Linked DNA regions of Homo sapiens. The protein of the gene in region 3 purifies or fractionates together with the protein of the main gene of each other region. This does not show direct contact. Each region holds a gene or a part of one and is shown on either strand. Other genes may lie near its edges. The genes, in order: B3GALNT2, PASK, SFRP4, ITPRID2, UCK2, ATAD2 and ANKRD17.

The links.
Region 1: the proteins of SFRP4 (region 3) and B3GALNT2 purify together in Homo sapiens (affinity purification with mass spectrometry; 2 studies listed by BioGRID and IntAct, with this or other methods). This does not show direct contact.
Region 2: the proteins of SFRP4 (region 3) and PASK purify together in Homo sapiens (affinity purification with mass spectrometry; 2 studies listed by BioGRID and IntAct, with this or other methods). This does not show direct contact.
Region 4: the proteins of SFRP4 (region 3) and ITPRID2 purify together in Homo sapiens (co-immunoprecipitation; one large-scale study listed by IntAct). This does not show direct contact.
Region 5: the proteins of SFRP4 (region 3) and UCK2 purify together in Homo sapiens (co-immunoprecipitation; one large-scale study listed by IntAct). This does not show direct contact.
Region 6: the proteins of SFRP4 (region 3) and ATAD2 purify together in Homo sapiens (co-immunoprecipitation; one large-scale study listed by IntAct). This does not show direct contact.
Region 7: the proteins of SFRP4 (region 3) and ANKRD17 purify together in Homo sapiens (affinity purification with mass spectrometry; 3 studies listed by BioGRID and IntAct, with this or other methods). This does not show direct contact.

What each region holds. Positions count from the first base shown.
Region 1 is NC_000001.11:235,483,410-235,487,861, reverse strand, and holds part of B3GALNT2 (UDP-GalNAc:beta-1,3-N-acetylgalactosaminyltransferase 2), read left to right. Parts: intron 1-3,346; coding exon 3,347-3,540; intron 3,541-4,452. UniProt on the Homo sapiens protein: Beta-1,3-N-acetylgalactosaminyltransferase that synthesizes a unique carbohydrate structure, GalNAc-beta-1-3GlcNAc, on N- and O-glycans. Has no galactose nor galactosaminyl transferase activity toward any acceptor substrate.
Region 2 is NC_000002.12:241,142,037-241,146,488, reverse strand, and holds part of PASK (PAS domain-containing serine/threonine-protein kinase), read left to right. Parts: intron 1-3,414; coding exon of another isoform or gene 3,415-3,456; coding exon 3,457-3,652; intron 3,653-4,452. UniProt on the Homo sapiens protein: Serine/threonine-protein kinase involved in energy homeostasis and protein translation. Phosphorylates EEF1A1, GYS1, PDX1 and RPS6.
Region 3 is NC_000007.14:37,909,770-37,914,221, forward strand, and holds part of SFRP4 (secreted frizzled-related protein 4 precursor), read right to left. Parts: coding exon 4,444-4,452; intron 2,549-4,443; coding exon 2,350-2,548; intron 1-2,349.
Region 4 is NC_000002.12:181,914,782-181,919,233, reverse strand, and holds part of ITPRID2 (protein ITPRID2), read right to left. Parts: intron 4,019-4,452; coding exon 2,807-4,018; exon of another isoform or gene 2,635-2,806; coding exon of another isoform or gene 2,548-2,634; exon of another isoform or gene 2,397-2,547; coding exon of another isoform or gene 2,337-2,396; exon of another isoform or gene 2,229-2,336; intron 912-2,228; exon of another isoform or gene 764-911; intron 637-763; coding exon 559-636; intron 480-558; coding exon 352-479; intron 1-351.
Region 5 is NC_000001.11:165,885,902-165,890,353, reverse strand, and holds part of UCK2 (uridine-cytidine kinase 2), read right to left. Parts: intron 151-4,452; coding exon 1-150. UniProt on the Homo sapiens protein: Phosphorylates uridine and cytidine to uridine monophosphate and cytidine monophosphate. Does not phosphorylate deoxyribonucleosides or purine ribonucleosides. Can use ATP or GTP as a phosphate donor.
Region 6 is NC_000008.11:123,343,579-123,348,030, forward strand, and holds part of ATAD2 (ATPase family AAA domain-containing protein 2), read right to left. Parts: intron 3,829-4,452; coding exon 3,514-3,828; intron 3,173-3,513; coding exon 3,040-3,172; intron 2,695-3,039; coding exon 2,508-2,694; intron 1,492-2,507; coding exon 1,306-1,491; intron 1-1,305. UniProt on the Homo sapiens protein: May be a transcriptional coactivator of the nuclear receptor ESR1 required to induce the expression of a subset of estradiol target genes, such as CCND1, MYC and E2F1.
Region 7 is NC_000004.12:73,251,736-73,256,187, forward strand, and holds part of ANKRD17 (ankyrin repeat domain-containing protein 17), read right to left. Parts: intron 1-4,452.

The DNA.
Region 1 (4,452 bases), on a different chromosome or scaffold from region 3:
AGCTATGATCTGCTTCCGCTACTGCACTCCAGCCTGGGTGACAGAGCGAGACCCTGTCTCAAAAACAAAGACAACGAAAGAAAGCTGATCCTAACTAGGTTCTCTGTGTCACCAGGGAACCAATTTTAGGAAGTTGATAAGTTTTTAACTGTCTGTGTTTATTAGCAATTCCCATTATGTTCAGCTGTGTTTCTAAGGGAGGTTATACTTCCAAGTCTTAAATATGCTGATTAGGACTTCTGGTATTTTAAGGTTTGTTAAAACTGTATAATTAAGTAACACCTCACTTTTATAAGCAGTCTCCATGGCTCTCAATCCAAGCTTTGCCATTTTCTAGCTGTGTGACCTCCTCTGCCTCAGTTTTATCATCTGTAAACTTGGGATAAAAGAATCTCCCTCATGGGGATTGACATAAGGATGAAATAAGTTGATACATATGATGTATTTAGAATAATAGTTCCTAGAAGGTGGAAGGTACTGAACATTATTTTAAAGAGCCTGCTATTTTATAAAGCTGGGTTTCAAACAGCTTTTTAAATAAATTGGACAATATATTCAGGTCTGTATTACAAAATAGAGGTTTCTTACTTAGGATGTCTGTGAATTCAGTTAACATTGTAAGCAAATTTTATGTATGAATTGTGTGCTGGGGAGAAAGTCCTTTGGCTTTCACTGGAGTCTTGTCTTTTTTTTTTTTTTGGAGACAGAGTTTCGCTCTTGTCACCCAGACTGGAGTGCAATGGCGCGATCTCGGCTCACTGCAACCTCCACCTCCCAGGTTCAAGCGATTCTCCTGCCTTAGTCTCCCGAGTAGCTAGAATTACAGGTGCCCGCCACCACGCCTGACTTATTTTTAGTAGAGATGGGGTTTCACCACATTGGCCAGGCTAGTCTCAAACTCCTGACCTCACGTGATCCACCCCCCTCAGCCTCCCAAAGTGCTGGGATTATAGGCGTGAGCCACCACGCCTGGCCTCACTGGAGTCTTAAAGGGATCATAAACCCCATAGAATGTTATGTCACTGATGTGGTATCCACTGATGTATCCTCCAACAAATTACAATTGAAAACCAAACCAAAACAAAAAGAAGCCCTTCACTTTTAAATTAACCATATTTTTATTATCTTAAGTGCTGTTATTTATTAAAAGTAAAGAAGTAGAACTTTATGTTAAAAGAACATTTTCATATATGTAATACCTAGGTTATGAATTTTTAAATGCGTATATAACTAAGTTAATATTGAACCTAATCTTATCTTTTCGATGATCCAAAGGCAGTTATGGTTATTTCAGTACCTGAAGGTCATGGTAAGCATTAATCATCGTGATACTGTGGCTGTGGTAGAAGGTTTAATAGCACTGTAATGCAACGGGATTTCCTGTGTCCACGTAACTTGAAGCTCAAGGCACAATTCTTTTAGATAAGAAAATATCTAAAAATGCTATATTATAATTGACTTATTGCTTTTAATAAAGAGGTTTCTACTATGGATATCTGTTATTTACTGAATATCTTAAAGAGAAAAAATTGTATTGTTGTCCATTATGTTGTAGTCTAGACTCTCCAGTTAGTGCTTGCCCAGCCCATGACAAAAAACTGTATTCTCCCTTTTTTCCCTCCTGTTCATGTCTATAATTAGGTAGGAGTCATCACTTCCCTTTAATCCCATTTTACTGAATATCTACTGAGTGTAAAGAGCTTCTAGGAAGTCTGACGTGGGCAACCAAATGACCTAGAGTATAGGAAGAAAATGTAATTTCTTTTTTTTTGAGACAGGGTCTTGCTCTGTTGCCCAGGCTGCACTGCAGTGGCACAATCTCAGGTCACTGCAGCCTCTTCCTCCCAGGCTCAAGCAATTCTCGTGCCTCAGCCTCCCAAGTAGGTGGGATTACAGGTGTGTGCCACCACGCCCAGCTAATTTTTGTATCGTAGAGACAGAGTTTCACCATGTTGCCCAGGCTTAGAATTTCTATTTATCTGAAAATAAGAAAATACAATCTTTATTAATACTGAATATATAGACTCACCACAATATATGCATATATTTTGTAAGTAAATAGGTGTGTGTACAAATATTTTTAACTGATGGTGTTGTGTAGTCAGCAAAATTTGAAAACCACAGCTCTAAAAGATACAAAGAACTTTGATATAATCTTTTAAAATAGGGTTTTATATTATTAAAGTAGCACTGATATTCCCTGCCTATGAACTGCTTTATTTAATGTATTCTGATTCATTTATGGTAATTAGAAAATTTATTTGAAGGCTGGGCACAGTGGCTCATGCCTGTAATCCCAGCACTTTGGGAGGCTGAGGCGGGAGGATTGCAGTTCAAGACCAGCCTGGGTAACATGATGAGACCCCCATCTCTACAAAAAATTAGCAAGGCCTGGTGGTGTGTGCCTGCGGTCCCAGCTACTCAGGAGGCTGAGGCAGGAGGATCCCTTGAGCAAAGGAGGTTGAGACTGCAATAAGCCATGTTCATGCCACTGCACTGCAGCCTGGGTGACTGGGTGACTGTCTCAAAAAAAGAAATAAAAGAAAAATTATTTGAACTGTTTTGGCACTGATTAGACAGCTGTGAGGGAGTGGAAAGGGGACTGACTTTGGAATCACTAAATGGGACTTGATTCCTGGATCTGCCACTTTCTATGACCTTAGGTGAATTGCTTAATTTTGGGCCTCAGTTTCTTAATATGTAAACTGGAGATAATGCCACAACCACAAGGGTAGTAGTGAAGATATAAATGTGATGGGAAATGGTACATAGAAGATGGTTCAAAACTGTGTTTGATATGCTTATCTTTTATCAGTGCTGTACAGCAAGAGTTTTTCAGTGTTATTTGAAGTGACTTCAGTTGCTTATTTATACCGTAATAATTGCCTGATGTATCACAAGTATTTTAAATTGCCTAACAAGAAGTAGGATTTTTGGAATTTGCACAGTAAGACCAAATTTACTGATTATTTATGACTACAGTCAGTACTGTTTTTCTTATTTCTATTTATCCAACCCTTCCAAATAGATGCCTTCCAGTTGACTTAAATTTAATATCTCCTGTGGCGTTTATACATATATATGCACACATTTATGCAAAAAGCTATTAAAGCAGTTCTGATAATTAACTTACTTAGATGTGGCTGAAAACTTTATTCTTAAATTTCAAAAATGTTTATATAGAAGCAGCCATTTTTCTCAAGCATTTTTTAAAAATTCCTGCCATTTGTGAATTATATAGCAAATGATTACCTAGGTTTTGGCATTAAGCCCACTTCACTACTTCTTACTAGTAAAACAAAGGATTACATTTGTTCAGTTATATAAACCTGTTCTCATTACTTAGTTTTGAATCAGGAAATTGAAGCGTTCAGTCTGTCCGAAGACACTTCATCGGGGCTGCCTGAGGATCGAGTTGTCAGCGTGAGTTTCCGAGTTCTCTACCCCATCGTTATTACCAGTCTTGGAGTGTTCTACGATGCCAATGATGTGGGTTTCCAGAGGAACATCACTGTCAAACTTTATCAGGCAGAACAAGAGGTATGCACTGCTCTGTACAGGTTTTTTCTCTTTTTTCTTTTTCAAAAACATCAACTTTTCCTTGTGACATACAGTAAGTAGATTGGAAGACTATATAATTCTCTCTGGTTGAGAGACTTTCACCTTTCTTCCCCTATTGACTAAATACACTGTAGTGTGATATAAGACTGGTTTGGGGATAGATTATCTGTGAATAAATGTGCTATATCTAGAAGAGAAGGAGTTGACTAGATTAGAAATCTCCAACCTAAAATTCCCTAAAACCTAGGGAATTTCAAAAGTTGGTAATGGATATAAAAAAAGTTTAGGATTCTTAGGATAAGTGAGTATTATTGCCTCTTACTTCCAACTGTAGAAGTCTGTAATACAAGGCTAATAACTGCTTCAAATCTTTTTTGTAATAAGGATATAGAGGGAATAAAAGTTATTCTTTTACAGAAAACAGAAAACCAGTGAGGTTTCTCTATTCCCGATATGTAGGGAAATCTGATTTGTTCACAGAGTGCATGTGAAGTAGCAGCATGGAAATGTATTTGAAGGATCTGTTTTTTAGTTTTAAACATGAAGAAAACTTGAAGGAATTATTCAGTAAACCCTATAGCCACTAACTACATTCTACAACAATTAACGTTTTCCTGTATTTGGTTTATTACTCCTAAGTAGCTGGGATTCTAGGTGCATGCCACCACACCTGGCTAATTTTTGTATTTTTAGTAAAGATGGGATTTTGCCATGTGGGCTAGGCTGGTGTCAAACTCCTGACCTCAAGTGATCTGCCCTTCTCGGCCTCCCAGAGTGCTGCCTCAGCCTCCCAAGTAGCCTCCCAAAGTGCTGGGATTACAGGCGTGAGGCACCGCACCAGGCCTGGTGTGCTTTTTCTTTGTCTGTTTTATTCAGGGCGTGCTACATGTT
Region 2 (4,452 bases), on a different chromosome or scaffold from region 3:
CTTTTTTCCTCCCTCTCTCCCGCACTCCCTCCCTTTCTTCCCTCCCTTTTTTCTGCCTGTCTCTTTGCCATTGAGAACCATATTGTCCCGAACATTCTGGTGTCTTCTTATCTGTTTGCAAAAATTTCTCTGAAATATAAATCTAAGTGAAAAGTGCTGTATCCATATAGACAAATGTTTCACTTGAATTGTTTTCTAAAGAGATTATATTAATGTATTAAGAGTTCCTGTTGATCCAAATCCTTTTTGACATTGGGTATTACTAGATTCTTCATTTCTGCTGACTTAGTAGGTATAACATCATCATGATTAGGATTTCCTCTCCTGTAAAACGCTTGTTCCTATTTCTTGACATTTTTTATTGGGCCATGTGTCTTTTAAAAATGTTTAAATTTTAAATAGTTGATCTTTTAAAGCTATTCTGGATATTAATTTTCTGTTGGTTATGTATGTGGCAAATATCTTCTCCCAAATTGTGGCTTGTTCTTTCGTTTTCTTTATGGTATTCTTTGTGAAGCTGTGTTCTCATTTTTTTTTTTCTTTTTTTTGGGGGGGACGGAGTCTCGCTGTGTCGCCAGGCTGGAGTGCAGTGGCGTGATCTCAGCTCATTGCAACCTCCACCTGCCAGGTTGTGTCGCCAGGCTGGAGGGCAGTGGTGTCATCTCGGCTCATTACAACCTCCACCTCCCAGGTTCAAGCGATTCTCCTGCCTCTGCCTCCAGAGTAGCTGGGAATACAGGTGTGTGCCACCATGCTCAGCTAATTTTTTTTTTTTTAGTAGAGATGGGGTTTCACCACATTGGTCAGGATGGTCTTGATCTCTTGACCTCGTGATCTGCTTGCCTCGGCCTCCCAAAGTGCTGGGATTACAGGTGTGATGTGTTCTCAATTTTAACGTTAAACTTATTAATCTTATTTTATAGCTAGAGTTTTTTGTGCCTTGTTTAAGAAAACTTTCCCTACCCCAAAGTCTTACAGATAGCCTCTTTTCTCCTAAAAACTTAGTGATTTTATTTTATATTTTATTTGGTTTGACAGGTCTCGCTTTGTTGCCTAGGCTGGCCTCCATCTCCCTGGGCTCAAGCAATTATCCTGCCTTAGCTTCTAGAGTGGCTCGGACTATAGGTGCAGGCCACGAGACCTGCCTGGCTAAAAAGTTTAGTGTTTTGACTTCCACAGATCAGATCTTTTATGCCCTGGGCACCATAGTGAGACCTCATCTCCTAGTTAAAAAAAAAGATGGCCATGTGAAGATACATACAAACAGGGAGAAGTCGGCCGGGCGCGGTGGCTCACGCCTGTAATCCCAGCAGTTTGGGAGGCCGCAGCAGGTGGATCACGAGGTCAGGAGATCGAGACCATCTTGGCTAACACGGTGAAACCCTGACTCTACTAAAAATACCAAAAATTAGCCAGGCGTGGTGGCGGCTGCCTGTAGTCCCAGCTACTCGGGAGGCTGAGGCAGGAGAATGGCGTGAACCCGGGAGGCGGAGGTTGCAGTGAGCCGAAGTCGCGCCACTGCACTCCACCCTGGGCGACACAGCGAGACTCTGTCTCAAAAAAAAGAAACAAACAAACAGGGAGAAGCTCTGTGATGGCGAAGGCGGAGACTGGAGTGACGCAGCTGCAGGTCAAGAACACCAAAGATGGCCAGTATGGCCAGTAGCCACCAGATGCTAGGATAAGGCAAGGAGGGGGGACTCCTTGGAGTTCCATATTGGAAGAGGTGGTGTTGGGAGGGCCACCTCCCCTTTCCTCTTCACCCCAGGCCTGCCTTGTCTTGGAAGGGCCTCGTGTGGGCATCCTGCTAGCTTGTCCAAGCTCGCTATTCCTGGAAGGCTGCTCCTCAGCCAGTTCACGGCTATAGGTGTGCCAGTGTGGGAGGACCTGGGTGGAAAGAGGCCTGTGTGTGTCTTAGAAGTGGGCACCAGACCCTTTGGCTGGGAACTCTGGGGTTCTGGATACCCAGAAGGTGGTCCAGAAGAGGGTATATGGGGTGTGGTTGGGCTTGCCTTGGCCCCAGGGTCTCCTCATTTCGTGGGGGAAACTCCAGCCATGGTTCTGGTATTGGCCACAGCCTCCTCTTGCTGTTTATCTAAAGCCTGGATGACCAGGTGGGGGCTTCCTGCCAGTAGAGGAAATCTTCTTGCTTTAAGGGCTCTTTTTGTTGAGTTTGGCCATGAGGACAGGGTATTGGTAAATGTGTACTTGTGTTTCAAGTGCTTGCCAATATGCAGGATGGAACTCTTAAGTATCTCCACTCTGCAGGGTGGTCACATGAATGTATACATGTGACAAGACTGCATGGAACACGTGCTCACATGCGCGCACACACACACGCTCATGTACACATGTGCACACGCACACACACGCACGGACACACACGCACACCCACACACACACACACCTGCAGGTAAATGCCTTGAAATCTGGACGAGGCTGATGGATGGTATCAAGTCAGTTTCCTGGCTGTGACACTCTCCTGTAAGATGTCACCATGAGAGGGAACTCGGAAGAGTATGTGAGATTTTCCTGTATTTCCACCCTGTATCAGCATTTGAATCATGTATAAGAGAAAAGCTAAAAATACAAATCTCTGGTGCCAGGCCTGTCTCTAGGAGACATGGCCTCTTGGCCATGGCCCCCGCGACCTCACTTGTTGGCAGCACCCAGGTGATTCTGTGCACAGCTGGTCGGATGGTCAGGACTCACTGTTTAGGGGAAAGCTGAGACCATGGGAGCTGTGCAGCCCCCACGTGCTGATGGGTTCATCATGACCTGGGAGTATTTTCAGTTGGTGTGTACCTGCAGTCCCTGCCTTCCCTCATGGCTCCTTCCCACCCTGTTCTTTGTTTTCCTCTCTCTCTCCTTCCCTCTTTCCCATATCTTCCTATGTATTTTTCTTGGAAAGAGCTTCTTTTTTTTTTTCTTTTTTTTTGACATGGAGTCTCTCTCTATCGCCCAGGCTGGAGTGCAGTGGTGTGATCTCGGCTCACTGCAAGCTCTGCCTCCCGGGTTCACACCATTCTTCTGCCTCAGCCTCCCGAGTAGCTGGGACTACAGGCACCCGCCACCATGCCCGGCTAATTTTTTGTATTTTTAGTGGAGACGGAGTTTCACAGTGTTAGTCAGGATGGTCTCGATCTCCTCGATCTCCTGACCTCGTGATCCGCCCTCCTCAGCCTCCCAAAGTGCTGGGATGACAGGCGTGCGCCACCGTGCCTGGCCCGGAAAGAGCTTCTTTTAGCACCACTTTGGGTGGACCATTCTCCCATTGCGGGTTCTGACCCAGGATGGCGGTTGGTGGTGTATGTCTTTTGGGGCCGAGCTGAACTCAGCATTATAAATTAGTTGGTTAAACTGTCTTTGTGTTTTTGCATTGCAGATGTTAATCAGCTTCATGTTGTTTTCTAGTTGTTAGAGTTGGAAGCTTGGCAGTTGGCCTCCCTTCTTCCCATGGAGGACGGGGGCTTAACAGCCTTTGAAGAGGACCAGAGATGCCTTTCCCAGAGCCTCCCCTTGCCAGTGTCAGCAGAGGGCCCAGCTGCACAGACCACTGCTGAGCCCAGCAGGTCGTTTTCCTCAGCCCACAGACACCTGAGCAGAAGGAATGGGCTTTCCAGACTCTGCCAGAGCAGGACAGCGCTCTCTGGTAATGACCTTCGACCACTGCAGGCCTTAGCGCGTGGAAATACAAATGTGGAGTTGCTCTGTGTTCTCATGGAAACCCTCTCACCAGGGATTGAAGTCACTCTATTCCTGCAGAGAAAAGTTCGTGGTTTAAGTGCTCGGCTCATGCTGGCAGATGACTCCGGCAGGACCCTTCCTGCTGCTTTTACTCTGCTGTGATTCCCAGGCAGCTGGCGCTTCTTTTCAGGCAGCAGGTGGAACTCACCTTCACATTTCAGGGTCAAGTTACAACAAAATGTTATTTCTTACTTTAGAGTATGTGAGAACGCTGTTCTAGGTTAGGCTATTTTACTTAGGGAATTGCAGCTTTGCTCGTGCAGTTTACTGAGCTAAACGCGGTTTAGCTGGTGGACCAAGAATCATGGGGCAGAAGTCTGTTGGTGCCTCCTATGTCCAGATTCCGTTGGTGCCTCCTTTGTCCAGGCACCCCAAAGGACTGGGCCATGGTGAGGAAGGAAGCGTCACTTGCCTTTCAGGGGCTGTCTGATGGAGGCACTTGGGGAGACAGCAGGCTGTGTGCTTGAAGTTGGGGTAGACCTGGAAAATGGGGAAGTGGGGCATAGAGCTGCGGGAAATGGTGGCTGGGAGTCTGGTCTCCAGGTCAAGGAGCACTTCGACACTGGAGTAGGAGGGTGTTGGAGCTGAGCTTGTGCACTGGAGTGTCTGAGGGTGTAGAGCGGAGGGCCCTGTGGAGAGTGCCCAGGATACTGCAGGGAGGGGTGGGCTGGGAGGCACACAGCGCCCTTGGGAGTGGGCTTCACC
Region 3 (4,452 bases):
CTTTACCCCATAATCCACACATCCACCATTTATATTTTATTGGTGTTTCCTTTCATTCCTCCTTGTAACAATATTAATTATATTTATTAGATCACATTGTGTATTGAGATGATCTGCTGATCTGCAAATTTCCTTTTGTCATTATATGATCTAAATTTTCTGATGTAATTAGAGTAATTTAAAAATATAATGTTAATAATATAATACTATGAATATGGATATCCATAATATATCTATCCATTTCTTTATTGCTGAATTCCCCTTTTGCTTAGCTATGATTACCAGTATTGCATTGAATAACCCTGTATACAGTAGTGTGCACTGGCTTATTATTTTCTTAGGACAGATTTTTAAAATAGAATAACTGAGTTAAAGGGTATGTATTTTTTAAAAAGATTTTCAATGCATAGTGCCAAGTTGTTTTCAAAATGGTTGCACTTTCATCCAATTCACTAACATTAAGAATTAGGTGAAAATGGAATCTTATTTTTATTTGGATTTAGAATTAAGGAGATAATTTTTTAAATGTTTACTTACTATCTGTATTCTATTTGTATTACTATTTGAACTTCTCTATATAAATTTCTGTATATATATTTCTATATCATGATCTCAATGTTTAAATATTAATTTTATGAACTCTTTAGTAAGATTACTATTTTTTCATATCTTTTCAAGTATGTTTCTCAATTTTTATTTGCCTTTCTATCATTATTTGTGATTTTTATATGTATAATATTATGCAGTCAGATATGTGTATTGATATTTTTCCTTGTAATTTCTTACATTACTTTTATGTTTACAAATTACTTTTCTTTTCAGATATAACATATTTAGTCACTAATTTTGTCCTTTTTTTAAAGTTCTTAGAATATTTATCTATTTAATCCATTTGAAAGTTATTGTAAAGCACAGTATAAAGTGAAAAGAATGTATTTTTTTACAAATAGGAATATTTTCAACATTTACCAAATAATACATTCATTTTCTATTGATGTGCCATATTTCCTTCATAATGAAAAGCTGTATTTTATGCATTAAAACCTGTTTCAAGAGTTTTTCCTCTGTTTCATTTATCTTTACGTCTACTATTGCATCACATGGTTTTAACAAGTGTAACTTTACACCAGGTTTGCGGGTCTCATAAGGCAGATTTCCTCTCTTATTTTCAGAATTGTCTTTACATACCCTTACCAATTTATTAGAATCATTTGTGAGGACATAAATCCCAATTATCCAAAACTATTTTTACTGGGATGGATTATAATCCATTCATCTCTCCAGATAGAATGTAATGACCAACAACCTGGTATCCCCAACTGGATCTCTAGCACTGCAGCAGATGCAAACACCTTGGTAGAGATGAGTCCAGAATCACTGATTGCTTCTTTAGGGAGACAAGATATACGCAGAATCTGGCTTTAAAACCAAGAACTCAAGGTGATATCCATGTTGTAAGGAGGGCACCCAAGTACTGATAGAATACAGAAAAGTGGAGTTAGTTCCCAAAGATGTTTTTGGTTTCTTTTCAGAGGAATAGTCTTAGGTTATATCTAGAAGAAACAGATGAGCATTAACAGCAGAGAATGGGAGGGATGCCTTGTTATGTAAAACTGAGTGATTTTGCTGGAGAAGTATACTGCATCAACTTATGGGGCCCAACATGGAGGCTGGGCTCAAGAGTTTGACTTTATATTACAAGTAATGTACCAATATCCAAAAAAAATAAGAAAGAAAGAGAGGCCAGGGAGACAAATACACACAGCTAGAATTTGTGTGTATGTGTATGAGTGTGTGTGAAGCATATATTTATTTGTTTATACATTGCCTTGTGATGATTTGAATTGAGAATCACATATCCGATTCAGAAATCACCTTAAAGTGTGTGTGTGTGCATGCGTGTTTGTTTGCAATACTCTATCAAATATTATGAAGTGTTTATATGGAAAATATGTGGAACTATAGTCTCAACTCCCTACTTACTTGATCTGTAAGCTATTAAAGTGGCCTTAAAAGTTCAGTATGTGCCACTCTAAAATTGTTTGAATGATTTGAAAAGAATTGTTCTTCCTTAAAATAATTGACTTGCTGTAAATTTTGAAGTCACTTAATGAATTTTGAAACTGATTTTTAAAGACTCTATTCAAATACTCATATTTTGATTTTTCCTTCATTCTATGAAGAATTAATTGATAGAATATATGCTATTCAAACAGAGGCATCTGTTAAACTAATTTTTTTAAAAAGACTTTGGCATATTTTTGTTATATTTTTAAACCATGACTGCTAACTGAGATTGAGGTCTTCCTAACAGTGTGCATACAGTTCCTTCTGCCTCTTTGTGCCTACCTTGAGCGCCACTCGTAACACATGATGAGAACATCTTGATGGGGCAGGATGTGTGGACACTGGCAAGAAGAATTTGTAATGAGCGGGACTTGAGTTCGAGGGATGGGTGATGAGGACTTGAAGATCTCTTTTACATCCACCACCGTTGTGACCTCATTGCAGCCACTCCTCTGCACAGCTTTTATTTTGGCATGAATAACTGCAATTTAAAAATAGATAAAAGTGTTGTTGAAGGTTTTGGGGAAAAACTAGGGATGGTGTATTCATGCCAACTTCTGAGCCTCTCTTAAAGAATCACTCCTGTAATTATGGTTATGTCCAAGTGGCCTGAGTGCAGGCAAACAGCCCACACAGTCATATGCTAAATGGATGGTGTCCTATATTGTCAACATTGTCTTAAATGTTCCGGGGCATACTGCAAGATAGGAAAGCAAGCTGAAAAGCAGGTTTTAGTCTTTCTCTGCCTTTAGGTCAGTAAAAAATTCACAGAAACATATATTTGTATTCTTCCTTGTGGTGATTTGAAGTGGGGATCATATATATTCAGATCAGAAGTCATCTTAAGGTTTGCATTTCTTCAATCACTCATCTGATGCTTGAGCTTCTTCTGTTTTACAGAGATAGTCATTAGTCATAACATTTTTGAACTGGAGGGAGTCTCTGAGGACTACTGTTCTCAATCTTTTAACTTCACAGACTGACAAAGTAGACCCATGGTGAGCAGAGATAGAACTGTTATTACAGATGGCTGTTAATGTCACTGTCTCTGACCAAGTTTTAAATGCTGGTTTCTGTGGTCTCTTGCTATTACTGCCTCCCGTAGAGTTGTAATCAGCCTAATATGGCTCTGTCTTGGATTCCATTTCAGGAAGCCAGTTTATGAAGACACCAAAGGACTTGAATACAAAATGGTTTCTTCATCAAGGTCGTTCAAAGGCCATAACACCCCAGAGAATGACATGACAGTGAAACTCAGATTAATATCTCAGGCTGGATCTTGGCAGAGGAGGGACTAAGTAAATCAGATGAGGATGGTAGCTACATAGAGCAGGCTTTAAGAAAAAAAGCTACAGGAAAAGATAAACTACTTTTTGTTGTTGCTGAATTACCCCCATTGGCTAAATATGATTCTTAAATCTGATAGTTTTGTAACAGCTTATTTTTTTTCAGATTTCTACATTTCTGTGATCCTCCTACTTTCATGTCTGATATGTATCCTAAAGTTTCTTACTGATATAAAATTTCAATCTGCAAGATGAAAACTAAGTCAGCAAACAAAATAAGCATTTTCCCTAAAACCACTTTATGTTATTTCAGCAGAAATGATTTAAGACATGCAATGAAATATAAAGTAGGCAGCCCAAACAGACATTTTTAAAATGTCTGCCTTTTACATTTCTTTTTGAATTGAAAAAGAACATATGTTAATTAAATTTACTTTCAGATGACAATTGTGAAATTAAAATTACTTAAAACATTTCAAATTTCATGACTGACTTATTCATGGAAGAAAATGCTGAATGGTTCTTTCAAGTAAGAGAGAGGAGGGCATTTAAACTAGTTCGATAGTGTAACCATAGGATTTTGTGATTAACATTTTTTTCACAATTTATTTAAGATGTTAAATATTTGTAGCTAGTCACAAGTAAAAGGATATGCAGGCAGATCTTAATTGTCTGGGCCTATGGGCCTTAATTCTCTGACTCTCAGATAATCAGATCCATGGATCATTCTCTCATTCTTCCTGCAGCAGTAAAACCTCAGGAAGAGAACAGGTGGGGTGTGCCATCAGGGCTGATAAGCACTTCTCACCAAGACAAGGAGGATCAAGATGTCAAATTTTCAATCTGATGCATGTAATTTTTATCACCTGGGTCATTTCCTTTGTTTGCACTTGATTCATCCAGAAAAGCAAGATATTTTGCAGTTGTTATTGTGCCATATATTAATAGAATTCACATGATCAACTGGAAAAATAGTCAACCTTTTGTTTTCTTTACTTTGTGACTAGCTTTAGTGAGAGCGACCTTATTGAGATTCCAGCTTTGTAATGAACCAAGTCTCAAAAGTAAATGGCTTTAACAGACGACTTACCATAGCTGT
Region 4 (4,452 bases), on a different chromosome or scaffold from region 3:
TCTTTCAACAACTACTATATGCTAACAGAAGGCATGGAAATCTCAGGTTCTAGAAATTAGTACAATATCAACTACAATAGGTGTATCCACAAGGACATTAGTCTTTCTTCCCCTATCCTCTCACAAATATCTCAAACACGGGAAAGCAGGTTACCACTACCCTTAGGATATTGAAGGCATACAAGTTTACTTAGTAAAACACTATCTATGACTAATCTTATCTACACTGGTTCACAAAACAGATACAAGGTACACAGCAGTAGAATCAAAACCTAATTTTAAAAAATATAAGTTGAGAAGACTTTGAATGAAAAGCTTTTTGAGGTGTGCTAAGACAAAATGAACTTTTACCTCTCCTCCTCAGTCATATGATGATAAACCATGGTTTGCTGACGCAGCATTGCCAATTCTAAATCCATCATTTGTGTTCTAAACAAATTCAGGCTCCGCCTCATTACCTGGAGCTCCTGAAAAGTATTCTAGAATGCAATATAACAAAATTACACTTCTAAATTCTACAAATTATTTTGGAACACAAAGATGTAAGAAAGAACTTACTTCATAAAGAGGTAGAACAGATGATTTCTGAGTACTATATGGAGCAGCAGCAGGATCAGGTCCTCTCATCATAGGGTACTTCAAAAAAGTAAAAGTAGGATTAAAACCAATGTTAAAGTGAATACTTCCAAATCACTTAAGGGGTTAAAAGGCAGAATTTGGGGCCTATATATTTTTCTCTTTAAGACAAAAGGATCCAAAAAACCTTCATATTGTAAGCAGGAAAAAAGAAATCAGTTCCCAATGACACCTAGTACTGCTAGCTGTTCCAGGTATAAGTCAATCTACGTGGGAGGAGGAGGCGAAGGAACATAGTTCACATCTATTTCTTTCAGGACTTCCCTCTTGCGAAACTAAAAAAAAACAAAATCAAAACGCAAAAATGTAGAAGCCATTGCAAATATCATCATGAGATTATAGTGATTATTAACTTTGCTGGAGAGCAAGCAATCATTGTCGTCTTTCTCAGACATCTTAGCATTTCCTATATGCCACTATTTTAGGCAGTGAGATAAAAACATAAAAGGTATTCCCAGCCTTCAGGTGTTCTCACAGTGTAAAGAAAAATAAAGGAAATTTTAAAAAAATTCTAATACTGTGGAAGGAGTGCTATGATGAACACAGAAAAATTCAGATTACGTGAACTTTCCCAAAAGTGGTAACACTACTTGAACTGAGCCTTAACAGTAAATAGGGCTTGATTATGCAAAGAAAGGCAAAGACTGGGTGATCTCGGTTAAAAAAAAGTGGCTTATAGTCCCAGTACTTTGGGAGGCCAAGGCAGGAGGATCACTTGAGCCCAGGAGTTCAAGACTGCAGGGAGCCATGATTACACCACTGTCTCCAGCACTCCACGTGGGCGAGAAACAGAAACTTCATCTTTTTATTTTAAAAAAACAAAACACAAAATCAGCCATGTGCAGATACCTAAGAACACACAACTGTTTAGAGACCTGTGCACAATCCTACAGCTAAGGAATGAGGCTGGAGAGATAGTCAGAGACCACATCATAGAAAGCACCTGTCCACTAGTGTAGGGTGGGGTAGGCATGGGGAGATGTATTAGCTGAGTTATTGCTGGGATATCCAGGAGAAAGAGACCACAGCTGGAGCAGAAGAACTAGGTGGCCTAGAAAGATGCACCACGGTACTGGTGGACAGGGTCCTGGAAATCCCCAGCTTGACATAATCACAGCTGCAAGTTCCATCACAGACAGAACTATATTTTGTAAGGAGGAATAAGAAACACCCACATTCTGTTTAAACAGAAAACTGTTAGGGGACAATTGTCATGAGGATAAAACTTACAGTTAAGAGGAGGTATATCTTATTATAACTTGAGAAGTTACACCTTTGATTTTTACTTTCCAAGTGGCTCCCTGTCTACTATGTCATGATAAGAGGTCTATTACATTCATTCTAGGCCTCCTGACTCTTTGTTGAATGCTCTCATGACTATATTACATTGTCATTTTCTTCAATCCCTCAATTGTCTAAACATGATTCATTCAGAGAGAATGTTCAAGAAAATGTAAAAGGCAAAACTGAAGACAACGTACTTATTTTCAAAATTTTTTTGGGAAAATTATTTCCAGTCTACTAACAAATCTGAGAATGACTTTAAAAGTGACAAGACATACAGAGCATTTTAAATCAAATTCACACTTTACCTGATTTGTTATTTTCTGGTCTGGAGTAGTTCCAGTCTTTGAGTCCAGTGGAAGTAGACTAACTCTGTGCACAGCATCGAGGGTCAGTAGGTGAAGGGGAAAGCTTAGTCAGAGAGCTACGAGCAGAACCAGGAGAACGTGGTGCCACAGAAGCCAACAGGGAGAAAACTTGGAAAAGGAAAAGGTAGTCAACATGTTCAAATAGCAGAGAGAAAGAGAGAAAGAACTTTAAGAGGGAAGATTTTTTAATAATAGAAATGACAAAAGATTCTAGACTAAAACAAAGACAGTGGATGATAGACTAAAAATGGGAGGATACTTAACGAGAAAAATCTCTCCTCTTGGAAAGGAGACAGACTTGTGAGCAGAGAAATCGACTTTGATCAGGGTTAGTTACAGCTTCTCCCTTGAAACAGGAGGGAAGATAGAAAACGAAGGCAGATGCAGATTAAGTTTAGACATGTCAGAAAATAAAGCTGAGGTAGTTCATACTTGATGTGCCTTAGCTTCTCTGTGAATTAAAAAGTGCTCAGAGCAGTAAAAGAAAAAAGCTAATGATAACATACTTTTTCTCATACCTGTGAAAGATTCTGCAGTGAGTTTCTAATATCATGTAATACTCTTCGCAACTGCATTTCTATGGCTGAAGGAGGATTCACAGAGCACACTCGGTAAGGGTAGGTGGCATGTCTATGTGAGTAAGGACACCCGAAAGGGGAAGCGAAGGCACTACAAGTAGCCCCTGATATGTTGGGAACACTGTGAGTGCTCAGAGTTCTTGTGTGCTCACACAGGGGCCTTTCTTGCCACTCAGAGTGGATGGAATGAAGGGAACAGGTAGACTGAGACATTGGTGGTGGAGCAAGCCGTGAACAGGTAGGAGTCCTTCCATGATGGCATTCCTCCACCCGCGGCGCCTCACTCTGGGGGGCTTCTTCTTTCTTCACAGATGATGGAGAGATGAAAATGGTCGATTTAACTAAAGACTGACCATCATGTTCCATCACCCGCTTTTCCAATTCCTGCTCCTCTTCAGGTGTGTACTTATAGGTGAAGGAAGGTGGGCTGCATCTGGTCTCTTTTCCTGGAGATAATCGAACATTGACAGAGGACACAACCCTTACTGGGCTCAATAAGGTGGTTGGTAAAGACTGAGACCTTCTTAGAGGATAGCCAGCTTTTGCAAATAAGTACCTTTGTTTTAACAAATCTTTTGATTTTAGCAGGCTACGCCCCATCCTTTGATTAGACAGACTGCAAACCTTCATTTGAGCTCTTTGCAAAGCTGTATTAACTCTGTCCATGGAAGAGGGAGGCCCAGTTGTATTTTCAGAGCTCATATCACTGCATTTAGCTTCAATAGAAGCCAATGATTTCAGAATATGGTGTGTGGTATACTGAGTAAATTCACTTTCACTGCTTTTACCCACATCACTTTCAGCACTTGCTTCCCTCAGTAGCTCTACTGTCTCTGCTGGAAACAAATCCTCTTCCACTTCAGTAATTTCAATGATATGATCCCCTGGACTACAGGTGGACTGTTTAGTTCCTGTATTCTCAATGGTGTTGCACTGAGGGAAATCCTGGCTACCTGATTTTCTTTTGTCTGCAACTGCTGCTGCCTTCTCTAGTCCCTTCTGAAGAGGGACAAGAGACTCCTCCTCTGATTCATTAAAATAAGGCTGGTCTTGTGCTGTTGGTGTGGCAAGGTCTTCACCAAGTGACGTAACTGTTGTCTCACTGTCACAACTATCAGCACTACTCCCCATAGCCTGCAAGGACTCCTGAACCTGTGAAAAGAAAATAGGTGGAAAGATGAAGAATATATGTAAGAAGAGTCACTAACAAAATACCAAACCAACATGGTGCTTCTATAATTTCACTGTCTCCACTGCAGTTGTGGCCCTGCTGTTGCTCAAAATTGTTTTATTGCTCCTGAGCAGCAACCACATCCCTCCTTCCTCTCACTTTCTCACAAAGATTATTTCAGAACTTCACTGTTTTCCTAAAATTCCCTTTCCAACAACCTCCCCCTTTCCTTTCAATACAACACACTGACTCATAGAGAAAATGGACAAACACTTCCTAACATTCTTCCCCAACATCTAAAAACTTCCTTGTATCTCTCCCCATCATTCCCTCCTTCTCTCCATTCTGAAAGGAAACTCAAAGCGAATCCCTCCAACCTGGGTTCCTGATCATATCCTCTCCAAGACCAGGGTAT
Region 5 (4,452 bases), on a different chromosome or scaffold from region 3:
AAAGTTGAACTGGCCCTTCAGGGCTTTGGCCTTCTGCTCCGAGGTAAGGACACGGTAGAAGCTATCCTGGCTCAGGATGACCACCTGCTTCTGGCGATAGTCCACCTCATTCTGCCCCAGGAGCTGCACGATCTTAGCACACACGGAAGACTGTGAGGAGAGAAGAGAGCACCCAGGAATAAGAGAAAGGGCACGTGTGGTACAGAGGAAGTCCCGAGAGTAACCAAGCTGATGCACACCTTCCAAGAAGGGGCTCTGGAAGGAAGAATCCAAAGGCAGCTATCGTGCATGATGAGTTAAAGGGCTAAGGGATGCAGCCATAAAAAGAATAAGATCACGTCTCATGTGGGAACATGGATGGAGCTAGAGGACACTATCCTTAGCAAACTAACACAGGAACAGAAAACCAAATACTGCATGTTCCCACTTGTAAGTGGGAGCTAAATGATGAGAATGCATGGACACAGGGAGGGGAACAACACACACTGGGGCCTGCTGGAGGTGGCGGGTGGGAGGAAGCAGAGGATAAGGAAAAATAACTAATGGGTACTAGGCTTAATACCTGGGTGATGAAATAATCTGTATAACAAACCTCTGTGACACAAGTTTACCTATGTAACAAACCCCTGAACTTAAAAGTTAAATTAAAAAAAAAAAAAAAAAAAGGCTAACGGAGAAGAGTCCGCCTTACACGCCTGTGACAGAGAAGTCTTAGGATCCCCAAAGTTCCTTCCTCCCTTCCCTTAACACAGCTTACTACTGTCAGGTACTTGCAGTGATGGTGGGGGAAGGAGGGCAGCACACACCACCTCCTCCTCCAGAAGAGCCTTTCCCAGAGCCACTGATAAAGGTAGGGCTACCTGATCCTGTCTGCTTGTGCCCTGGTATAGACAGACAAAAAAGGCAGCAGAAAGTAGAATGAAGGCATGGTGATGATGTGCTGAGGGGCTACAGGGCCTTGGAATCACAAGGTGACTGCACATCCATGGAATGCCACTCAGCCCCTGCACATCTCTTTATATCAACGGAACCAAAAACCATGGCCAGAGAGCTCAGCTAGTTAGCAAGAAGGCTATGCTCACAGCGTTAATCCTACTTCTGTTGGTTACTTTTGCTCCAGTCCACAGCCATGACTTCACATCTACAGTAAACCAGGTGGCCTTTTCACAAACGTGTGTCACCACAGACAGGGTGACAAGGAACACAAACACCACCAACATCTAAAACAACTTAGGAGTATCCCAAACAAGAGTGGAGAAGCCAACTCCAAATGAACTCAAACCTACATGCTTTGTGTGTTGTTGTTAGTAATACATGTATCCTAAAATTTAAAAAAAAGAAAAACAGATAGTAATACATGTGTCTGCCCCTTTTTCCCTTCAATATACTCTTCGTAAAAGGAACATTATGAAACAAGTGCATTCAATAGAATGAGATAGTGAAGGATTGTATTTATCAAATAACTGATTTCTTTTTTCATTTCATACAAAGACTAATGTAAAAATAAAAATGTCTGTATTACACAAGCTGTAGGAGACATAACCCAAGTCTTCTAATGAAACTGATTGACCTGCCGGGCACGGTGGCCCATGCCTGTAATCCCATAACTTTGGGAGGCTGAAGGGGGTGGATTGCTTGAGGTCAGGAATTCGAGACCAGCCTGGGCAACACAGTGAGACCCCATCTCAAAAAAAAAAAAAAAAAAAAAAAAGAAGAAGAAAGAAACTGGTCAACCGAATAAATAGAAAGGAAAAACAGCATATTTAGGCCAGGCAGGGTAGCTCACACCTATAATCCCACAGTTTAAGAGGCCAAGGTGGGTGGATCACCTGAAGTCAGTTTGAGACTAGCCTGGCCAACATGGTGAAACCCTGCCTCTACTAAAAATACAAAAATTAGCCAGGCATGGTGGCACATGCCTGTAGTCCCAGCTACTCGGGAGGCTGAGCCAGGAAAATCGCCTGAACCCAAGACACAAAGGTTGCAGTCAGCTGAGATCGTGCCATGTACTCCAACCTGGGCAACAGAGTGAGACTGCATCAAAAAAAAAGAAAAAAGAGAAAAGAACAGAACAGAACAGAACAGAAAAACAGCATATTTAGAGGTTTGATGACTCAAATCTTAGAAGTTTTACTATTGAATTTATTTCATCAACGATTTTAACAACAACAACAACAAAAATATGAAATCTTTTAAAGTTACAATTCTTATAAAGTTGTGTTTGATTGCCCTGAGCGTAAGGAAAACTGGCCATTCCTGTTGCACAAGTCAGTGCAAACTAAACAGCTCTGCAAAATACGTCCTGTTATACAAGCTGTGACACACGACTAAGTAAGGATCTTTGGAGGAACAATAATATTTTGACTCAATTATTTGCAAACAATTTATTTCGCCTTCATGATACTTTTGCATATTAACACAGAAAAACATTTAAAACTACTCTGGACTTTGGGACCACAGATCCTCCCATGCCCCAAAATATCACAGAACAGTAAAACTTTCATATGATAAACTAGATTCAAAAGTGAAAATGTTACAAAACCAAGGCTCTCTGGGTGCTACAGATGGATGGGTGGGGGGGGAAATCAAAGGCTCTAAGCAATTATAAACTATAGGTTTTTAAACACCTGTAGGCCCTCAATTTCCTTTTCCTCCCAGGCATCTATCTTAGGACGTTTCTTACGTCCTAAGGTTGTAGGAAGATAAAGTCTGCAGCCTTTATTAGTAGATAGAATTCCTCCTAGAATTCCAAAGAACAAAAACAAAAAAGTGATTCACGAAGCCAAATGTATATTATCTAGTTATTCAAATTGTGATATTTTTATTTATATTTAAAACCCATAAAATGTTTTTAATGTAAATAGCAATCCCATCACCATCAAAAAAGCATATTAAAAAGTTACACTACCTAATTTTGCAGATAAACTACTGTTTCCCTTAACCCAGCACAATCTAGGACAGAACCTGTACAATGGCCAGTAAAATGGGATAATGAACATACAGTAGGTGCAATTCTAGAAAATCAGCGCTCATCCCAACCCTTGATCAATGATACAGTATGACTAATTGTGTTGATCCCCCGCTGCATGTTTCAGTCCTGTGTTTTCAAGGACCTGGCTGGTGACCCTTCCCTTCCACAAACACACTACCACTGCTAACAGTGTAAATGATTACTTATTAGGCAGCAGTCCCTGTGCCAAACACTCCATTATGACCACCTTTAGAAGCCACATGTGCTCTCCTACATGGATGAGGAAACCAAGTTAAGTAATGTGGTTTCATAGAGTCCTGGCTCTTTACCTCAACCTTAGATAGTAAGAAGTCCCAAGGCAGAAGAAGCCCTTTATCAGGAAGGAGATAAATAAAATTGCACAAATAAGCAAAGAAACACCTGCCTCTAGGTTAATCTAGATTGTTCAGGCATTTTCTTCCTCCTGGGCCATATTACAAATGGGCCCTAAAAAATCCGGATAACTGTTGAATCTGGCTGACATGTACATAGGGTTTGGTTATATCATCCTCTCTATTGTTGTGTAGGTTTGAATTTTTACCTGGTAGGGAAGAAGGCAGGGAGGGAAGGAGGAGTCCCACAAAGAGACTCTACTCTGCCCTGAATAAATGCTCTTTCGCTTACTTAACACTCACCTCTGTATCTCTTTCACTATCATCTCTGTGTTCTCCTTTTGCCTAATCCTGCCCCTCTCTTCAAAAGGATGAAATGGAGCTCTGAGGTGTCATCTTGTTCCTTAAGAATAATTCAGCTGGGCACAGTGGCGTGCACCTATAATCCCAGTGACTTGAGAAGCTAGGGCAGGAGGATCACTTGAGCCCAGGAGTTCAAGCCCAGGGTGGGCAACACTGTGAGACCCCACCTCTACACAAATTCAGAAATTATCTAGGCATGGTGTTTGTGCCTGTAGTCCCAGCTACGTGTGGCAGGCTAAGGCAGGAGGACTGCTTGAGCCCAGGAGATCAAGGCTGCAGTGAGCCATGATCATGCCACTGCACTCCAGCCTGGGCAACAGAGCAAGACTCTATCTCTAAAAAAATAAGAGAGAAAAAAAGAAAAGAAAGAGAAATAATCCACCAATAACCAGGGTTTGAGAAGGCAGGCAATCCTGAGCCTATAGAAATCTAAAATGGGAAAGGGTACAACTGTTACAGTGGGCTAAGACTTAACAATTATATTAATAGTCACAAAAAGACAAATACCATAGGATTTCACTATGCAAAGTGAAATGCACTATGCAAAGTCAAATTCATAGAAACGGAAAGTTAAATGGTGGTTGCCAGGGGCTGAGGGGAGGGGAAAATGAAGAGTTGTTGAATGGATTTTATATAATGAAAGGGTTCTGGAATTTGGTCATCCAATAATGTGAATATACTCAACACCACTGAGATGTACACTTAAAGACGGTTACGATGGTAAATTTTATGTTATGTGTATTTTAC
Region 6 (4,452 bases), on a different chromosome or scaffold from region 3:
GTGTAAACCAATTGTCAAAAGTGTGAAAAAAAACCATTAAACTCATTCATTAAAATACACAGAAGCCTACAATATGCTTGTTATGTGCTCTATGGACACAAAGGTGACAAAAAATAGTCCCTAATTTCATGTACTTTACATTCTGATGGGGAAACAGAGTCAAGCAAATTAATATTTAATGGCAGGAGGCAATACAAATAAAGCAGGAAAAGGGAAAAGAGTGTGATGGGTGAAAGAGCTATTGCTATTATTGAGAAACTCTGATCAAAGAAGGCCTCCCTGAGGTGATATCTGAGCAGAGATTTGAGAAAAATAAAAAATGATGACAGGCAAGTATGTAAGAGAAGAGTATTCCAGGCAGAAGCAGTATGGCCTTTTGTTCACTATTGGCAGTTGTCTAAATTGGCACAAACTTGAATGAGTAATTTAATATTGTTAAAACTTGTAAATGTAAAATACTCTTTGATTCAGCTACAGCTATTCCACTTCTAGGAATCAAAACTAGAAAAATCCACATACCAGTGCTCATACTAACTAAAATACAAGGATGCTCACTGTAAGAGTCCAGTAGAAAAAAATCTGGAAAACAACCAAAAAACCTATCAATAGGGCTTTGGATAAATAAATTATAGTACATCAACAGTGGAAAAACCATGCAGCTCTTAAAGAGACTTTAGCACTAACAAATACATGAATACATTTATTGATAAATGAATAAAGCAAATTGCAGAATAGTATGTATCATATACTCCCATTTTTTAAATACTTTTTTTTTTTTTTTTTTTTTGAGACAGAGTCTCGCTCTGTCGCCCAGGCTGGAGTGCAGTGGCTCACTCGGCTCACTGCAAGCTCTGCCTCCAGGGTTCATGCCATTCTCCTGCTTCAGTCTCCCGAGTAGCTGGGACTGCAGGCGCCAGCCACCACGTCCAGCTAATTTTTTTTGTATTTTTAGTAGGGACAGGGTTTCACCCTGTTAGCCAGGATGGTCTCAATCTCCTGACCTCATGATCCACCCACCTCGGCCTCCCAAAGTGCTGGGATTACAGGCGTGAGCCACTGCACCCGGCATATAATACCATTTTTCAAGAGAAAAAATTTATGTATCCTTAATATATACATACACATATACATATACCATCTTGCCCAATGAGCACATATACCAAATAGTTACCAATGGTATATTTGATAAGAAAACTTATCCTTTTATTCACTTCTACAGCATTTGAATTTTTTCAATAAGTTATGATTATTGTGGTAGAAACAACTCTTTTTGAAAGTATAATGATACCGCCCCACATAAATTACCTCTTCTGGCAAAGCGGAATGGGGTTTGTCAGAAGTTGCAAGTAGTAAAACTGGAGCAAATGAAGGAATATTCTGTAATAATGTGGTAAATGTGGCTTTAAGTGTCGGTCCAACTATTTCCCACCACACGTGGATATGAGGAACATACACTATACTTGGTGCTGTTCTCTTAGCTTCACGAATCACCTAGTAGAGAGAGAACAAAACAAATTCAGTTAGAGTCAGCACGTTAATAATGCTAGTTCTATTAGTCTGAAACAATGTTTAACCTCCCAGGAGTAACATATAAAGTCCTCAAGTTTTTAAAATGCTTCTCCAAAATCCCACAACCTTATTTTTAAATGTGGATTAAAAGTTTCATTTTTTTGGAAAAAGATAATTTCTTCAAGCAACTAGAAAACAGCTGGAGAAATCTAGAAGATTTTTCTATTGTGGTAATCAAAAGTAAACAAAACTACAAATATAAAATATTTTTATGTTTTAAAAATGTTAATATAGCCAGGCGCGGTGGCTCATGCCTATAATCCACGCACTTTGGGAGGCCAAGGCGGGTGGACTGCCTGAGCCCAGGAGTTTGAGACCATCCTGGGCAACATGGTGAAACCCCGTCTCTATTAAAATACAAAAAAAAAAAAAAAAAAAAATTAGCTGGGTGTGGCGGCATGCATTGCACCTGTAGTCCCAGCTACTCGGGAGGCTAAGGCAGGAGAATTGCTTGAACCCGGAAGGCGGAGGTTGCAGGGAGCCAGGATCGTGCCACTGCACTCCAGCCTGGTGACACAGTAAGACTCCGTCTCAAAAAAACCAAAACCAAAAACAAACAAAAAAAAGTTAATATACAAATACCAAAAACAGAAACTGCAGAATATCTGAGTACTTACTAAGGAGCAGTCACCATTTTAAGTACTTTACTCATTTAATTCTCACAACAGCCATGTGAGGTAAGTAGTATTATCTCCATTTTCCAAAAGGGGAAAATTAGAGAGATCTAACAACTTTACTAAGGTCACAAAGATATTAAGGGTGAATGTGGGATTTAAAGTCATTCTCTTTAATGACTAAGCAATCATGCATAACTCTGTTTTGTAAACCTAAAGTTACAAATCAGAAAGACAAAAAAACACAATACAAAAAAATGGGGCAATTTTAGCTTTTGCCTCTGAAAGCCTGTTTTGTCTTATACTTGGGCACCAACAAATTACCTGGGCACATGTTTCTTCAGGGGATGTAGTACTAACTCCAAAAAGAACAGGAATGTCTAATGTATATACAGTAAACTTTTCCAAAGCATGAATGACAGCTGGTGCCAAGTGAGAACCTTGCCCAAATCCTGGTTCTCCTACTATCAATATTCTTGGTCGAAAAGACATAGGTTGGTAACAAGCATTTCTGAAAGAGAAATGATTAATAAGCTATGTTTTAGAAAAAACAGTTTAAATTTTCCCCCTAAATTGTCAACTATAAACTTTCATAAGTAAAAAGTCTTGCCAATAAGGCCAACCAATCATAACATGGTTCACATAGTTTCTGGAAACTGACCCCCAAAGGTTTTTAGGAATATTTTTATAGACTGTAATTTCTACTGTTGTGACAACTGTAACAACAAAAAATTTCTGGTAGTTTAATTTAAATAAAAAGCAGATTGGTTAGCACTTTTTATTTTTTCAACCACATCTCATTTATTTTTAGAAAATTTACACATGCAAAAAACATTGATTTGCAAGAAAAATATACCTATTCAAATGAAGAAAATTAAAATTGTCTTTTGCCTTATGAGAAGATTTCTGAGAAAGTCCATTTTCATAAACTGATGGAACATCATCATCACTGTAAGCCAAGTCACTTTCTAGCAGAGGACAAGAAATATCTATAAAACCAAAAAATTGTACATTAGTAACTTTTGGATTGCAAAGCAAATCTTTATTGCTTCAGTTACCAAGTCAGCATACTTCAATTAAATTTTTTCAAAGAATCAAAAATATTTGTGTAGATATGAATTAATAAGTAAATGTAAAAATGCACCCCAAACTTACAATAAGTTAAATTAAGGGCAATCCATGGAGTAAATTTCCTTCAAATATCCCAGGTAAAGCATTACCAAATTCTTTTCAAGAGATTCTTTTACAAATAAATATTTCTGGTATGTATGAAACATTTCACTTTACTGATTATAAAAACTAACTTTAAATGGTCAATCAAGTTTTATACCTGAGTCTAATGTTTTATTTGTTCTGAATTCTGCATGTGGAAATACTCTCTGCAGGGCTTCTAAAATCTTGTCAACAGTGTTTTGCAGGAGTGGTTTCACAACGGTGGACAGTGCCTGCCCAGGTGATGTCACAGCTCTTTGGGAGGCTGGTATCATCTTTTGCATAGCTACCTCGAAATCCTTAGCTGAGATATTAATTGAAGAGAGATCCAACTGCAGTTTCTCACTAGTGGTATAGATCTGTGGGTAGCGTCGTCGTAAAGCACATAAAGCAGCTTCAGCACATATTGATTTAATATCTGCTCCACAGTATCCTATCCAAAGCAACCAGGGGAAGAAAAGAACCAGCCGACCAAACAAAGAAACACAAAACTCTATTAGCATGACCATGGTTAAAAAAAAAATTAAAAATCAGCCTCGGAATATAGTTAGCAAATATTTAAGAGTAATAAGACCAAAATCTCTTTTACCCAGTAAACTTATAGGGTAGTAATGGCCATCAACAATCAATCAACTTTTAAGAGTGCAATACACAAGCACTAAGTATAGCACAGAGGTCAAAAGCAAGAGTTTTAAAATCACACAGACTAGATTCACATTCCAGTTTGTAATTTACTAGCTGTATGACCTTAGAAGATTCACATAATGCTCTCCAGCCATTTCTTCATCTGTAGAGATACTGCTACCTACATCACAGGAATGATGTGAAAATTACATGAAATAATATATGTAAAATGCTTAAAAGGATGACTACAAAATGGTCAGTAAAGAATAGCTATTATCTTATTATGATATAATAATATATTGTATTTTGTACAATTATATTATTATCTACTCTGCCCCTGATGGCCAATTTGTCAAATATCTCTATTTAATACCAAGACTTCATGAGAAGAAAATGCCACAAATAAGAGATAAGAAACAAATATAACCTTGTA
Region 7 (4,452 bases), on a different chromosome or scaffold from region 3:
CCATTAAATTATCCTTATAAAAATTCAGATAAACTACTGTCATAAATGCAACTGCACTGCCTCAAGGACCTAAAAACTGTTTTCCTAATCAACTAGATGGCATAATCAGGTAACAGCAGAAACAGATAGTCTAGTGAATTTCCGAGAGTCAAAATATGCTACTTTGATGCTTATTAAACACTGAAAACTTTCACAATACTAACTCCAGTTAAGTTGGTGAGGTTAAAAATGACTAAACTAAAAATAATGGTTCAATTAAAACATCCCACAGGGATCTACTGTAAATAATAGCTGCAACCAAGTTCTGTTACCTCAAGACTTGAAGTCCCAAAGATTTCCCACAGTAGGTGGCTAATAAAGAAATATTTATGAGTTATTCTTACTACAGAGATGGGACTTCATGAGAACCTAGCAGAGATACAAAGACTTACATAAGACACATGGTACTGTATAGCAGGAGATATACAGATGAGTAAGACAAGGCTTTTGCTTTCAGATATGACAGTCCACAGCACACAATGTAAACTGCTTCATTAATTAAAGGGCAAAACATGAAGATATAAGAGAAAAGAGAGTAGGCATAAGGCTGGTTTACCAGAAAGATGTGATCAATCTTGGACCCACTATTTCACAAATAAGCCTTCTTTGTTACCACATCATCTGCTTAGTTAGAAGCAGTTTCCAAACTCTTAATAATCCAAATAAATGACCAAATTCCCCACTAAATCTGTAGTGAGAATGTTTCAAAGTAACAAGGTAGGAGGGAGAGGGTGGGGGTCACAGAACTCTTTGAGGATCTAATGAAAATCCTGCACATATGGGGCTAGAGCAGAAAGGAAGAAAAATAAAGCCTTATAAGCACCTTCAACAAAATCTTTTGTTTAATATCAGAGGATTCACAGCCTAGCCAGACCCCAAGTTAACAATCTCTATTTAAAAGAAACATTTTTTTTTTCAAATTAATAAGGAGAGATTACCTTGAAAAGTAAATATTTTGAAAGGCAAGGAATAAGTGGTAAATCGCCTCTAGAAAGGGTGGTTTTTCAGTATGAAGTTTTCATCTTGTTAACAACTTAATTCTAGGTGGTGGGAATATGGATTATTTTTCTATACTTTTCTGTATTTCTTGCTTTCTTTTTCTTTAGTGAGTTTTTCAGAAGAACTGGAAAGAAAACTTGGGGTGACCAACTTGTCTTCAATGGCCGTCCAACTGCAAAAAAGCGTCTCCCCTTATACAAGCCGAATGTGCCAATATCTGAAATATGGTACTCAACACCATACAGCATAACAGAGCATGTGAATGAGTGAGAGAATAAATGAATGAATGAGGAGGCGTAGAATCTAACAGTCCCAGGTTCAATCCCATTCTGACATTTATTAGCTATGTGACCCTGATGAGGTTGCCTAAAATCCTTCTATGCCAGTATGTTTACCTGTAAAATGAATGCTCCCTGCCAACATTTGTATACTTTGAAACTCACACATTATTCAAGATGTACATTTAACCACTTAAGCTCACTCTCACACCTCCCCAAACTTATAATATTTATTCATTGGTGTATTTTTAAATCAAGGTGACTTACAAGTTTTGTTCACCATTGCTCACGCAGTACAGCACAATACCTAGCACATAGTAGGAACTCCAAACATTTATTGAATAATGAAAGAAATATAGCAGCACCTACTTCATAGGGTTATGGCAAGAATAAAATGAGAATACGAGAAAATTGTATTAACTCATTTAACTCTCATAACAATGTTATAAGGTAGAATCTACTATCATTACCATTTATACCATTTACATGAGGAAATTGCAGTAGAGATTTAAAAACTCGGCCAAGGTCACAATGCTAGTAAATGATGGATCAAGGATTTAAATCCAAGCTCCAAAATCCATACTTTTAACCTTTACCTAGACTTCACAAACAGTAGGTACTGAATAAGTATTCATTTTTATTTACTCTTTAAAAATTTTAGGAGGCTTAAGGTACTTACCAGGCATTCATCAATTCCTATTAGTTTAACTGGCTCTCCCCTTAATACTTAGAGAAGATCATCATCACTACGAAAAGGAATTAAGAAATTGGAAAATGTTGAAATCTGAACTTCAGCTATTCAGAAGCCCTGGATCCAAGAAGGGAAGAATTTCCATTCCTTCTCTTCTTTCCCTAAATGAATGCTGAATCCTCCCTAAGTACTAGTTATTCACTAAAAATGTTTTGTTTTTTTCTAGTACTGTGCTTAAGCAGGAGAGAAGACAAGATAAATTATAATTAAGACAGACTACTGCTTCAAAGATCTTAAAATCTAGTTTACAAATACTGCTACATCAATTAAGAGATGAAACAAGCAAGCTTCTCTGGGCTAATCTAGGATTCTAAGCATTACAAAAAAGGAATTTAGATAGCACTTTTCCAATAAAAAACAAACAAGAATATTTCCAAATGAAGCTGAACACAGCCTAATTCTGAAATATTTTTTCTTTCTCCCTCATTTTCAACTCTCTTTTTCTGTCTGTAAACAGATCCTCCCTGGCCTTGCAAATCCTTTCAATACTAAGTCAGTACTAATTTATTTACCGGCTCCCTTTGTCTAAAATTTCTTCACTAGGTTTATCTCTTGATTTAGTCACAGGTTACTTACAAAAACAGATGAAATTCTGATCAACTCCTACTGTATTTATACTTTAAGCATCTTCAACAAAAATGTTTCTCCCCCTTTGAATTCTGCCTTAGAAAATACTAAGATTGCAGTGCGCAGTGTGGCTCAGACCTGTAATCTCAGCACTCTGGGAGGCTGAGGCCAGTGGATCACCTGAGGTCAGGAGTTCAAGACTACCCTGGCCAACATGGTGAAACCCTGTCTCTAATAAAAATACAAAAATTAGCCAGGCCTGGTGGCGGATGCCTGTAATTCCAGCTACTCGGGAAGCTGAGGCAGGAAAATCATTTGAACCCGGGAGGTGGAAGTTGCAGTGAGCCGAGATCAGACTGTTGCACTCCAGCCTGGGCAACAAGAGCGAAACTCCGTCTCCAAAAAAAAAAAAAGAAAGAAAAAATACTAAGATCATTCAGTCATATTCAAAAATGCATTCAATAGAATGCAATGTTATTTCTAAAATAAAGTATCAACTCTTGAAATTATAAGATTTTTTTCTTGTAATAGTCAAAAGCAATTTAATTAATTTTGTCCACTAATTTGAAAGAGCATCATGGCTTTTATGTTAGAAAATATATTTGTATTTTCCATATTGGTCAGTCACTCACTGAAAACCAAGAAAATTATGCATTTTCAATTTTAAATGTAAGATTTTGTGTCAAATAGATGGGGAGAGGGAGGCAAGTAGCTCTTGGTCTTATTTGTTTCCAGGTATACCCGAAGTTATGCAAATTATCTAAGACGTGATTACCCTATTCTGAAATACTTTAAAGTAAAATCCTATTCTCAATAACCTACTCCAATGTCTAGAAATTATATTCTTATTGTTCAACAATTAAATGAAGCTCTTATTTGAATTGATTCTCGTTTCCTTCCATTTTTCCTCTTTTGGCAGATACAGAGATTATTCAGATAGCATTTCTTTATAGCAAAGCTATGTATTTTTGTTAAATTAAAGTTATCCTTTCAGGTTAAATACCACAAAACCATAACCTTTCACATTCCTTTTTAATCTTTTGATGATTTTTACTGGAAGGATAATTTTAAAGATCATTTTATCTACTTTTTTTTATTGTGTAGCCTATAACAGAATGAATTAGAGAAAAGACAACACTGTGATTTTAGCCACAAGACTTCCTAGCTCCAGAAAGTTAGGCTTCTGCTGACATGTCAGTAAAATGGTAATTAAGAGAAAAACATTACACAACTCACCCATTTAGCTTACAGTTTTATTTGTCTTTACTTTGATCAAAAGATGAAGATGGGGCAGAGACAATCTGTACTCCTTTTTGTCTGCTCATCCCTCATCTGTATAGATTTTTTAAATGGGTACACTTTTTTTTTTTTGAGACAGAGTCTCGTTCTTGTTGCCCAGGCTGGACTGCAATGGTGCAATCTCAGCTCACTGCAACCTCCACCTCCCGGGTTCAAGCAATTCTCCTGCCTCAGCCTCCCAAGTAGCTGAGATTACAGGCATCTGCCACCACACTCGGCTAATTTTTTTGTATTTTTAGTAGAGATGGGGTTTCACCATGTTGGCCAGGCTGGTCTCAAACTCCTGACCTCAGGTGATCCGCCCGCCTCGGTCTCCCAAAGTGCTGGGATTACAGGCGTGAGCTACCACGCCCGGCCAATGGGCACACTTTCTTACACGTATTTCTCCTGACTCATCTTCATAAATGACAAACCCATTGTTTAACACCATGTAAAAGACAGGATAAGGTATGTTAAAAACATAGAAATACTACCATAGTTGGTGAAAGTCAACATAACCATTCCTATATTACAAAAGGA